Regions from separate parts of the Homo sapiens genome. Here region 1 is linked to region 2. Evidence: fine-mapped expression QTL. A gene starts in region 2. The other region holds a variant in brackets. All regions are shown on one strand. Distances are between the middles of the regions. Region 1 overlaps RAB3C (RAB3C, member RAS oncogene family). Region 2 holds the start of RAB3C (RAB3C, member RAS oncogene family).

The links. PIP is the estimated chance that this variant, and not a neighbour inherited with it, causes the effect.
Region 1: its variant is the best candidate, but not a certain one, in a credible set for the expression of RAB3C in cerebral cortex (GTEx, PIP 0.51).

What each region holds. Positions count from the first base shown.
Region 1 is chr5:58,613,519-58,618,906 of GRCh38, forward strand. It overlaps RAB3C (RAB3C, member RAS oncogene family), which reads left to right. Exons shown (of 5, transcript NM_138453.4): 2 at 4,125-4,352. Among named protein-coding and RNA genes, the nearest start is that of RAB3C, 33 kb to the left of the region's middle. The variant T/C (reference allele first, on the strand shown) is at 2,359.
Region 2 is chr5:58,580,480-58,585,867 of GRCh38, forward strand. RAB3C (RAB3C, member RAS oncogene family) reads left to right here and starts at 2,596. Exons shown (of 5, transcript NM_138453.4): 1 at 2,596-2,753. The coding sequence starts at 2,730. RefSeq lists a silencer at 2,403-2,602.

The DNA.
Region 1 (5,388 bases), 33 kb after region 2:
TTGAATTGTAAATCAAAGCAAACAAGAGGAAATTTAACAGAATACACATAAAGGTTGACACTTTCATAAAAAAATAAGTTGTCAAATATAGAATGGGAATAGAAGAAACCTATGTTCATAACAGTTAATGTGAAAATAGTGATGAGCATTTTAAGTCAAGTGTGATAAGATATAATGGTTTCATTCTACTTTGGACTAAGTAGGTAAATATCTAGAATATTGTGACCAATTATGAAAGCCACACATGGGACTTTGAAAATCTGAAGAGGTGTCAGTTTTAACCTAGCAGGATGTGTTCAATTTTTCAGACACGTCCTATGTGGAAGAGAGGCTAAATCAGTTGGGATCATCCAAGCAGGAGGAGAGAAAGCTTATGGAGCCCGAGGGGTTCCTTCAGATACCTGAAGTTCTCTCTATGCTGTAAAGGCTTCTTCACAGCATAGTAAACATCTTGCTGCTCAGTGTGAAGGATGAAGCTAGGACAACAACCTCAGATGATGGATGCCATGAAAGGGACATGGGATGGGTGGGAAGTTGCACGGCCTTTGAAGATTCTTTCCAACTCTATGGTTATTTGTTATTTGAAGTTCAAGATTAATGCCATTTGAAGAGTTATTTTTGTATATCTTTTATGAAATTTGATGTTCCCCTTGACTGTTCCTATTTTCAAATTTCAGCTATGTTTCCCCATGAAAATTTTGAGAATGTTCACATGACTTTAGTATTTAGAGATATCAGTAAACTTACATAGTGCCTGTCTGTAAACCTCTTTGACATTCGTATGCTGTCAAATTGCTTCACTTGTGGTCTCAGCAAGATTAGGGCTGTTTCTTTCTTCATCCTCTGAGCTAGGATTTATTTCATTATTCTGAAGTTATACAAAAACACACATACATTCCAAATGCATATCTTTTTGGCTCTTTGTGGAATCTTATTAGGTGTGTTAAATTAGGAAATAGTACAAAAAAAAACCCATGAACAGTCTTCAAGAGTAAGTGAGTTAATAACTTTTCCTAATTAATTCTTTAGAGGCTCTTCCTGAGAAGAATTTTGCTGGGTGCACATGTCCACCAGCTCTGTGTCCCTCCTAGACCCCCTCTTTTGCCCCCATTACCTTCTTTGCTGCTACCACAACAAGGTATATTAGCCCTTGAAATTAAAGATGTTGCTGTCCCAGTTGTGCTTGTCTTCACCTAAATGCATACAGTCATATTCCAAAAGACTATATATTAGTGATATCTATATAGTTCACCCTTCATATACATGAGCTCCCGTGTGTGGAGTGAACTAATTGCAGATATAAAATATTTGGGAAAAAATTTCATGTGTACTGAACATGTATAGACTTTTTTTCTTGTTATCATTTCCTAAATAATACAGAATAATAACCACTGTTTACATAGCATTTACATTGTGTTAGGTATTATAAATAATCTGTACATAATTTAAACTGTACAGGAGAATATGCATAAGTCATATGTGAATACCACACCATTTTATATCAAGTACTTGAGCCATCTGCAGATTGTGGTGTCCATGGGAGGTACTGGAATCAACCCCTATAGATACCGAGGGACAATTATGTTTCTTCAGGTTTTGAAACCAACTTAATTTTGGAATGGGACCTGAAGTTGATAGCAGCAGTCTTCATTACAACTTTTGAGGTATCCTAGAGATCCTCGGGCCTCAGTTTGAATGCCACCGTAGGGTTATGGGGCTGTAACAGATAGTAAGCTATCAGGCCAAGTAAGTGAGCAGCTCTAGGAAATATATAGTGTCTCTTTTCTGGCTGTGGCTTAGCTGAACATTCTTACCAGACCCCCAAATCCAGTCTGGTTCATATGAAAAAAGGTAAAATAATCTTCTTAATGAAGGCCATTTTTAGGCCTGTTTGAATTTAGCAGCTCATATAGGAGAGGAGCATTAAATGATGAAAGGACAATGTCTGCAGGAATAGCACTGCCAAATAAAACAGTTAACTGGCTTTCTGGGGGACCAGAAATCATCATGGCAAAAGATCATTGTTCAAACTAGTGGTCAAGAGTTGCAATCCTACTTTTGCCCTTTGGCCGGCATGTGTTGGGGAAAGTTGACCTTAGTATGTGGGCTGGTGGGCCAAAAAAGAAAGTGATGCTATCTGCCTGTTTTAGAGGCCGACCTCTGCCCACTGGGAAGCGTTTGTTATAGGTTTTCACAATTTCTAAATATATTTGTGTGGCTGTATAGACTTAAAAAGAGAAATGCTTAAGCTTATGTTTAATAAGAAAATGTAAAATGCAATTTGAGTCTTTATTATCCTTAACTTTCATGAAATACCCACGGGTTTTTTGTTTGTCCTTATTCTTATACATAAAATTG[T/C]GTTATCTTGCTGGCATTAAGTATTTGTAGAAGAGAAATACACAATCTCACCATTTCCCTTTTTCCTTTTTCCTCAGTTTTCTGTAAACATACGTGTACACACACACAGACACACACACACACACACACACACACCCCTGACTTCAGGTAACCAGTGTTGTCCTAGATGAGGCTGAGCACTGTTTCCTGTTTCTAACATTTTTCCATCTCTTGGAGCCTCTCCCTTTTCCTCCCCCTACCCCAAAGAGAAACAAGTAACTATTAATCAGCTTTTATGGGAAATGGAAAATAGACTCTCTAGCCTAGCATTGTACAATAGAGTTTTCTGCAATTATGCCAATGTTCTGTATTTGCACTGTCCAGTATAGTAGCCATTAGTCATATGCTGCTATTTTGCACTTGAAATGTGGCTAGTAGGATTGAGGAACTGAATTTCTAATTTTGTTTCATGTTAATGTAAATTTAAATCACCATATGTGACTAGTGGCTACCATATTAAACAGAATAACAATTGCCAAATAATTTATAGCATCAGAAACTGTGCTGAGCAAATGTACTAATCAGTGGGATGCAACATTCTAAATACCTCTTTTCTATATTGAGCCAAATGGTACTTAGAAGTAATGCAATATCATTTTTGATAGATGTTAAGATGATCATCAAAAAAGATGAATAAAAGCCAATATCCACCTAAAGCATTTGTAATTGATTGTAGAGACCATTTTCTATTTTATGCTAGATGCTTTACATATCGCTTTACAGCTGTATCATCTATTATTTTCACAAGAATTCCAAGTTAGATATTATATTTTCCCATTTCATCTAAGGCAGGAAACTGCAGCACACCAATTTAAAATAACAAACCAAGGTCACACAGCCAGTAAAGAGTGGAGCCAAGTTTTGAACCCAGGTCAGGCTCTCCTTTGATGCATTTCACAATGAATATTTCCGACATGATCTTCTAGGGCACTTGCGCATGCCTCCCTAGTCGTCATTTGGAAGTAGGGCAGGTGTCAAGAACATGAGCCCTGGCACCACACTGCTTGTTTGAATCCTGCCTCTACTATTAACACCTATATGAAGTTGAGCAAGTTACTTAATAATATCTCTGGGCCTCAATTTTCTCATTTTAATATGGAAATATTAAAAGTACCCATCTCATTGGGTTACTGTGAGGGATTAAATAAGTTAGTATCCGGCACATTGTTTGAACTATATATATTTGCCATCATAATTATTTTTAATTTAAAAGACACTGCCCTTTATGTTAGGATGTTGATTTGATATGATAATAAATGAAGTAGAGATATGCTTTGGGTGTGCTTCCCTATGAAATAAGAGAGATTCGAATCATTCAGATAATTCAGGAAGAAATACCCTGCTGTTCAGCCACTTTGGTGTCTCTGTCAGTAGGATTATAAAGTTTCAGAGCCCACATGCCCTGGCCAATTTCTCATCTCTTTGCTTGTCATGTTACCCTTATAGACATCCCCTTTGGTGTCTTTGATTGGTTCTGAATGCTGAGCAGTGACATGCACCAACACAGCTGGAAAGGCCTGTAAGATTTGCTATTCTGTCTTCCAGCAGGGAATTATTGCCATGGATACCAATATCAGAGGAAGACTGGGGAGCACTCACCACTCGCCTCCTGAGTGTCTGACATCTGTTTCTGGCAAGGCCAATAATGAGTATGCTGCTAGCTTCATATCAAATGAGAGTCTGATCTACACCTATTTTGTTTTTGTTTTGTTTTGTTTTTATCACAGATGGCCTCTGCCCAAGATGCCAGGTACGGCCAGAAAGACTCCTCTGATCAGAACTTTGACTACATGTTCAAATTACTCATCATCGGCAATAGCAGTGTGGGGAAAACATCTTTTCTATTCCGTTATGCAGATGACTCCTTTACATCTGCATTCGTCAGCACAGTTGGGATCGATTTCAAAGTAAAAACTGTATTCAAAAATGAAAAGAGAATCAAGCTTCAGATTTGGGTAAGTGGCTTTGAACTGGCAGTGTTCTTCAGGCTGGGGTGTTGAACATATCCATTTGTAAGGGAGAAACTTTCTGCCTTGTTCTATCCCCAGGGCATCCACAAGCCTCAATTTCCAGCTTCTTTGCTGCAGAACATTCTGTTTCAAAGAAAGTAGTGGTGATGCCTCTTTAAGACATGAGGGGTGAATTATTATTATGCCTTGTTGTCATGTGGTGCTCCTTAAGAGTCTTCAGAATAAAAAAAAAATCCAAACCTCTATCTTGTTGGTGGTGGAAGGAACACTTTAAGTCTGGCTTTGCCTTTTATGATCTCTGTAACCTTGAGAAAGTCTGTGACTCCTTCTCTGACATTTTTGTAATCTATAAAATAAGCTAAGTGGTTCTGGGTTTTTAGGTCACAGAAAGCAGCCTCTCCTGGGCATTTCAAAGAAGAAGATAAACAACCAAATATAGGAAAAGTGTAGGTTTAGACCCTTCATAAAGCTCCAGATAGAACTTCAGAGATGGTCTATTTATACTGTGCAAACTGTTTTCAACTCTAAGAGCTATGTTTATATATGCAAATAAAACAAATGAAATGAAATATTTATTTGAAACAGGGTCTTTCCAAAGTAGAAGGTTCTCCCAAAGTTTTGAGACCATTTGGTTAGCTTTTTGCCTCTCCTTACCTCCAGAAGAAGATCAGAGGTAGCTTAGCCAAACTGGTGGGATAAATTTAGGAGACCAGTGAGCAAAAAACAGAGGAAAATCTATGTGGATAGCAGGTCCAAGGCAATATAAAAGATGGAGCAGCCAATTTAAAAAAATTGTTACACCAAAAAAGACTGATGTAGTAAATATTTTATGGACATCGTAATATGTACATAGGAAGAATGTTTCTACAGTAAGTTTTGGCACCTTTTTCCTATTCCTTTGTACCTCTGCCACTCAAATTGATTTGATCTGTAATCAGGCATTTCCCAAGAGGTGTTTTCTAGCTCCTTCTGAGACATTTACAACAGCTACTACCATTTGGTGCTGGTGCCAGGATTGATC
Region 2 (5,388 bases):
ATGTTTTTTAAAAACTCCAGCTTTAAACTAAACTTTCATGGGTTCTTCCACAAATAAAAGACATACTAAAAAATCCGAAGATATATATAATTTTAGTGAAATGTTGAGAAGGGATAAACTTCTCAAAGAACAGTAATTTTGCAAGATAAATATTTATAAGGTTTAAATATGTTCTATATCAGACTGAATTCTGAGAATTTCAGAAAGTGATGATAGTACAATATACATAAGAAGTTGTTCTGAAGAAAGGCAGGCTCTAAGTAGCTAAGCAAATATTATTAAATGCCAAACAATTCTATACATTTAAATGTCAGGATTATTTTGTTGGCATTTCTCTTGAAAACAATTTTTAAAGAGATGCATCTTTAGATACATCTTAATTTTAAAAATTGCAGAAGTCATACTTCTAATAAGTTGCTACTGTGATACGTATTGGTATTGGATTTTCTTTTAACTTTCCATTTTGTTATTAGCTAATTTACACGAAACTTCTCTAAGCATCACACTACTCTCAACTATGAGGTTTATGTTTTTAAATATATGCCTTTTCTATTTTTTTTTTTTTTCAGATGGGGGTGTCTCACTATGTTGCCTAGGCTGGCCTCGAATTTCTAGGTTCAAATGATCCTCCCAACTCAGCCTTTAGGGTAACTATAACTGCAGGCACGCTCCACCACACCTGGCTTAAATGTATTTTCTGAATAGTTATAAAAACTACTTACCTAGGTGATATCGCATTACATTCTCACTAATTGCAAGATTAGAAGACAGATTATAGAGTTGTTAAATAATACAATCAACTAAAATTAATGGAAATATTGAATATGGTAGGTTCCCAATATTAGACTGTTGCATTATTGAGTCCATACCGTGACATTTTTGAGGTTTGCACCTTTGAAAAAGTGTTACACATAGATTCTTTTAAGACAATGTTTCTCAAATTATGGCAAGGGAACCACTTGCATCAGAATTGCTGGAGTGTTTATTTAAAATGCTAATTTCCAGACCTCTCAAAAGATCTAGTGAATCAATCTCTACCTGTGGCTTAAAAATTTTAACTTTAACCTCCGTCTCAACAGATTTTCAAGTACGTTTAAGTTTCAGAACCTCTGTTCTACTGCTGCAATGAAGTTTAAAGCTGATTCAAGTTATTCCTTCCATACCTCCATGCCAATATCACAATCATTCCTTTTTCACTCTGCCTCCGTTATAATTTTGACTTCATGACAAGGCAGGGCTGATTTGCTGGATGATCAACGTTTACTTTTAAGTAGAGAGGGCTGTCTCTAGATAGTTACAGAGGACATGGATAGTCATACCTATCAGTCAACTGACAGGAAAAGGATAAGTCTAACAAAAGTACAGTTCCTAGATTTCAAAACCATTTTTTTGAACTAATCTGGGAGGAGTATAGTTGTAATATAAGGAATGACTTTGTGTTAAAGAAAGGACAGGATAACTTAATAGAGGTCTCCCATCTCATTCTGTCACGGTGCTTTTGGGTTCCGGTGATGAATGTGTTCATTTTATGTGGCTTGCTCTGGGTAAATAACCCAGTGCCCTATCAGCTCTGCAGCCCGCGGCCAGCGGCAGTGTGTGCGCGCTAATGACGGCGGAAGGTGCCTGGGGGAGGGCCTGGGGAGGGGCTGGCCAGCGCTATCGCGCCCCTGGCACTTCCTAAGAGACTGAGCCCTTTCTCTGCAGCTGCAGCTTGGATTCCACGCTTTCCCTCCAGAGGAAAGAAGCCCTCCATCTAAATCAGCTGTCTTCTCCACATCCCTCCTTTTTCTCTCCGCCAGACGCCACCCCTACCCCTTCTATTGTGTTGTGCCTTTTCATTTTAGCCCCGCTTCCTACGTAGAGCCCTAACCTCCTTTGTAGCGAGGGCACTTGAGAATTTCTGAACCTCGAGTTGTAATGGAGCTGTATGGAAAGGTAAGCAGGCGAAAGGAGTTCCTTGGGGTGCTTAGCCAGAAATCTCGCTTTCACGCACTTCGGTGTGCGGGTTGTGTGTGTGACTATGTACGCGCGCGCGACTTCTCAGTGCAATTATGCGGATAAACCACTTTCCTTATGTGTGTACCGTTAATCGTCTTTCTCCCCTACGTTTGGTGAATGAGATTGTAAAACTGCCCCACTCTGCCTAAGGAAACGTAGAAACTTTCCCGATTCGGATGGGGAGGGGTAGGGCGGAGAGTCCCAGAGACCAGCTCTGGCTTCGTTTGCATTGGAAATTAGCACAAGGTAGTGTTGTTTCCTAATCAGAAAATCACCATCTACTTCCGAAGGCGATAGTTAGCAAAGAAAAATCTCCAGCTGAGATAAGCTGGGGTCACATTCGCCTGCCCCTGGCGAGGAAAAGAGCAGGGGAGACTGGGAGAGGTAACCCAGGAGCGTTTGGAAAGGAGTAGGGAGGCTCCGCGGCCGAGCCCGACTGGCGGATCGAGCCTGTTTAATGGTTTGCTTGCTTGCCGGGAGTTGTAGTTCACCGCTCGCCCGTTTGCCGGGAACACCCGGAGGGCGAGACTACAGCTCCCAGGAGTGCACGGGGCTCCTCGGCAGTACGCGTGTGCGGCGCCAGGAGAGGACAGCTCCAGTGCTGATGTTGGAGCCGGTTAGCGAACCCCAAGAGTGCAGAGTGTGGAGCGTGGAGCGCCGGGACTGTGCACGCTTGACCGGAAGCCCAGACCAGTGCGGTCCTAGCCAGAGAGAAAGGACATTTGCCAACAATGAGACACGAAGCGCCCATGCAGGTGGGTCCATAAAGAAAGAGTGGCCTCGGGAGGAATTGAAAGAGATGCTTTTCCCCTTGCTCCGCGCACAAGCAGTTCAACGTAAGGAAAGGTCTAGGCGGTCACCCGCGGAGATGCGGCTCTGTGACATGACCCTGGGAACAGAGTTGGGTTTCTTTACGCTCTGTGTGGCTGTGATTGGGGCTGTCTTGATGAGGGATCGGGCTATTCGCAATCTTTCTAGGCTCTGTAAAGAGGATAAGAGTGTCTGTCTAAAATGAAAACCCAAGCAAACAAAAGTCAGAGGAGCATGCAATCTCGTGTTGGCATTGATCTCCTCTCTTGGCATCCGGGGTTTGAGATCGCGGTGAAAACTCACGGATTTAAGGCAGATAGATCAGATTCGGGGTTGAAGGCTCCCCACTGGAGTCGGCATAGAGCGAATTCCGCTTGGTTAAAGGCGCATTAAATAAAGAGAAGCCAATGTTAGGCTCCTCAAAGTCCCCTTTCTTCAGTTAGGCTCCCAGTATCAGCAAAAAATAGCAAACACATCGGGGCTTGGCATATCCCTGAGCTATGCCAGCATCACTGTCCACACAACTGGTTTACTCTGTTTTGGAGACAGCCCCCTCTGAGCTTTCCTGTGTTATGTGCCCATTTGTTCTCCGATTCCCCATTTCAATCACATTCTTAGGTTTGTTTCCTTTGAGAAATGCAAAGGACTCTGGTGCAGAAGTACCACTGCCTAAGCATCTTGCTTAAGTTTTGTTTTTAAGTAAAGATGAGTGATAATTCTCGTCTCTATGTACTACCAGTTAACGTTAAACATCAGCTTGTGTTTATTAATCAAGCAGTGATCCTACTGTGTAACAGAAAGGCATTTTATGAGTGGGGTTGAGAGAAGAATAGAAAACATCATTTGGAATGTGCTGTCTCTCCTGAGAACCCACCTCTGCTGCCAAACCCAAGAGTATAAATATTTGACATTAATTCGGACTTCAGCGTTTTCCAACTGGTTTCTTCATGAATCAAGGACTTTAAACATATGCTTTGATTTACTTTTAATTTATTTTATGGGTTATGTATATTAAGAACCCCTTACTGGACTGTTAGATGAAAAATCTATAGAATTTAATTGTTTGTTGGGTGATTATATAAGGGAAGTCCTCAAATTACCTATGAGTTATTGAAAATTTGATTTGTTCCAGGGAACAGTGGCCCCTTTGTGTGTCTTCTAATACCTCTATTTGTGACTTAGCTTTTCATTATAGACCTGATGTGAAAAGAATCTGAACAGACAATAAAGGTACAGGCTGTTGCAATCAAGATATATTGGTTTATGATAATTTTCTATTACTGGAGATACTACCAGGAGCCAACTGGCTAAATTAATCATATTTAATTATAAGTAAACACTAATTGTAGACTTTAAAAGTAGATCATTATACTTCACTATGTATATGTATATTAAAACATGTACATCTTAAATTTACACAATAAAAAAGATTTCCAAGAATTTTTGAAAAATAAAGTAGATTGTTAATATTTAAAGTAAACTATGTATGCACTGATATTTTTTCAATCAAAATAAATTACGAAAAATTTAACCACACTGTATATCAATTTTGCTTTCTTACAGAGTTGCTTAGAATGTTCAGAAAGGTCATTAAAATATTACAGAACTGTATTAATGTTTCAGGAAACAGTTAAAATTATTTTTTGTGTTCACCAACTATGTAGTAGGCACTGTGATTTTCTATTTTAGTCAAAACTTTAATGAAGAACTAAAATAAAAATAAGGTAAAATGAAATTAATTTGCTTGTGGATGGAGTTATTGTCATATTTATAATGTATTTTTAGTCGTTGGACTAAGTTTTTGAAATTTAAAATTTCCAAATGCTGTCATGAGTAATGTACATTTTAGGAAATCAAAGACTTTTTTAGCATATTTAATTAAAGCACATACATTAATTCAATTTAACTAATAAATTGTTGTTATGGTGACCCCATCTCCATTATTATCAATTTTCAAAAATATGTAATAATAGATAGGATAAAAACTATAAGCTTACTCTGAATATTTTAAAGTAACAAGTAATGTTTCAGCACCGATATTTCTGAATTGTAATCACATTTCACGTGACTTTGATATATGACAATGCAACAAGATAAATAATTGACTTTTTTTTTCATTTAAAGACTGAACCACATCATCATTTTAAATATATGCCCCAAATATTTTTTTACTTAGGTCTGTAGAAGATGACTCACAAGCAAAACCTCATTTTATGGTTCCATAAAATAAGAGATTTCTTCTCTGCTTTTAAAAAATATTTAGTTCATTTGTTGATGTGAAAGAAAATGAGCTTTTTAATGTATTTGCTTATTTCCCAATTTACTTCTTGTATTTTCTTAAATCAAAGAATCCTTTTAAAAATCATGTAAGGTCTTTTAAAAAGCATTTGATGTATCTATATAAATAAGTTGATGTTCTGTTCGAGGTAGTTATCTTTGATATGTGCCTATTTTATGAAGAGTATTTCTTTCTGAATTGAGGGAAAATGAGGGATAATTGTTTTTTATAGTAACTACCAAAATAATATACAGTGATAATCTCTGACATCTTTATTTCCTTTCTAATCTAAATAACCAGGA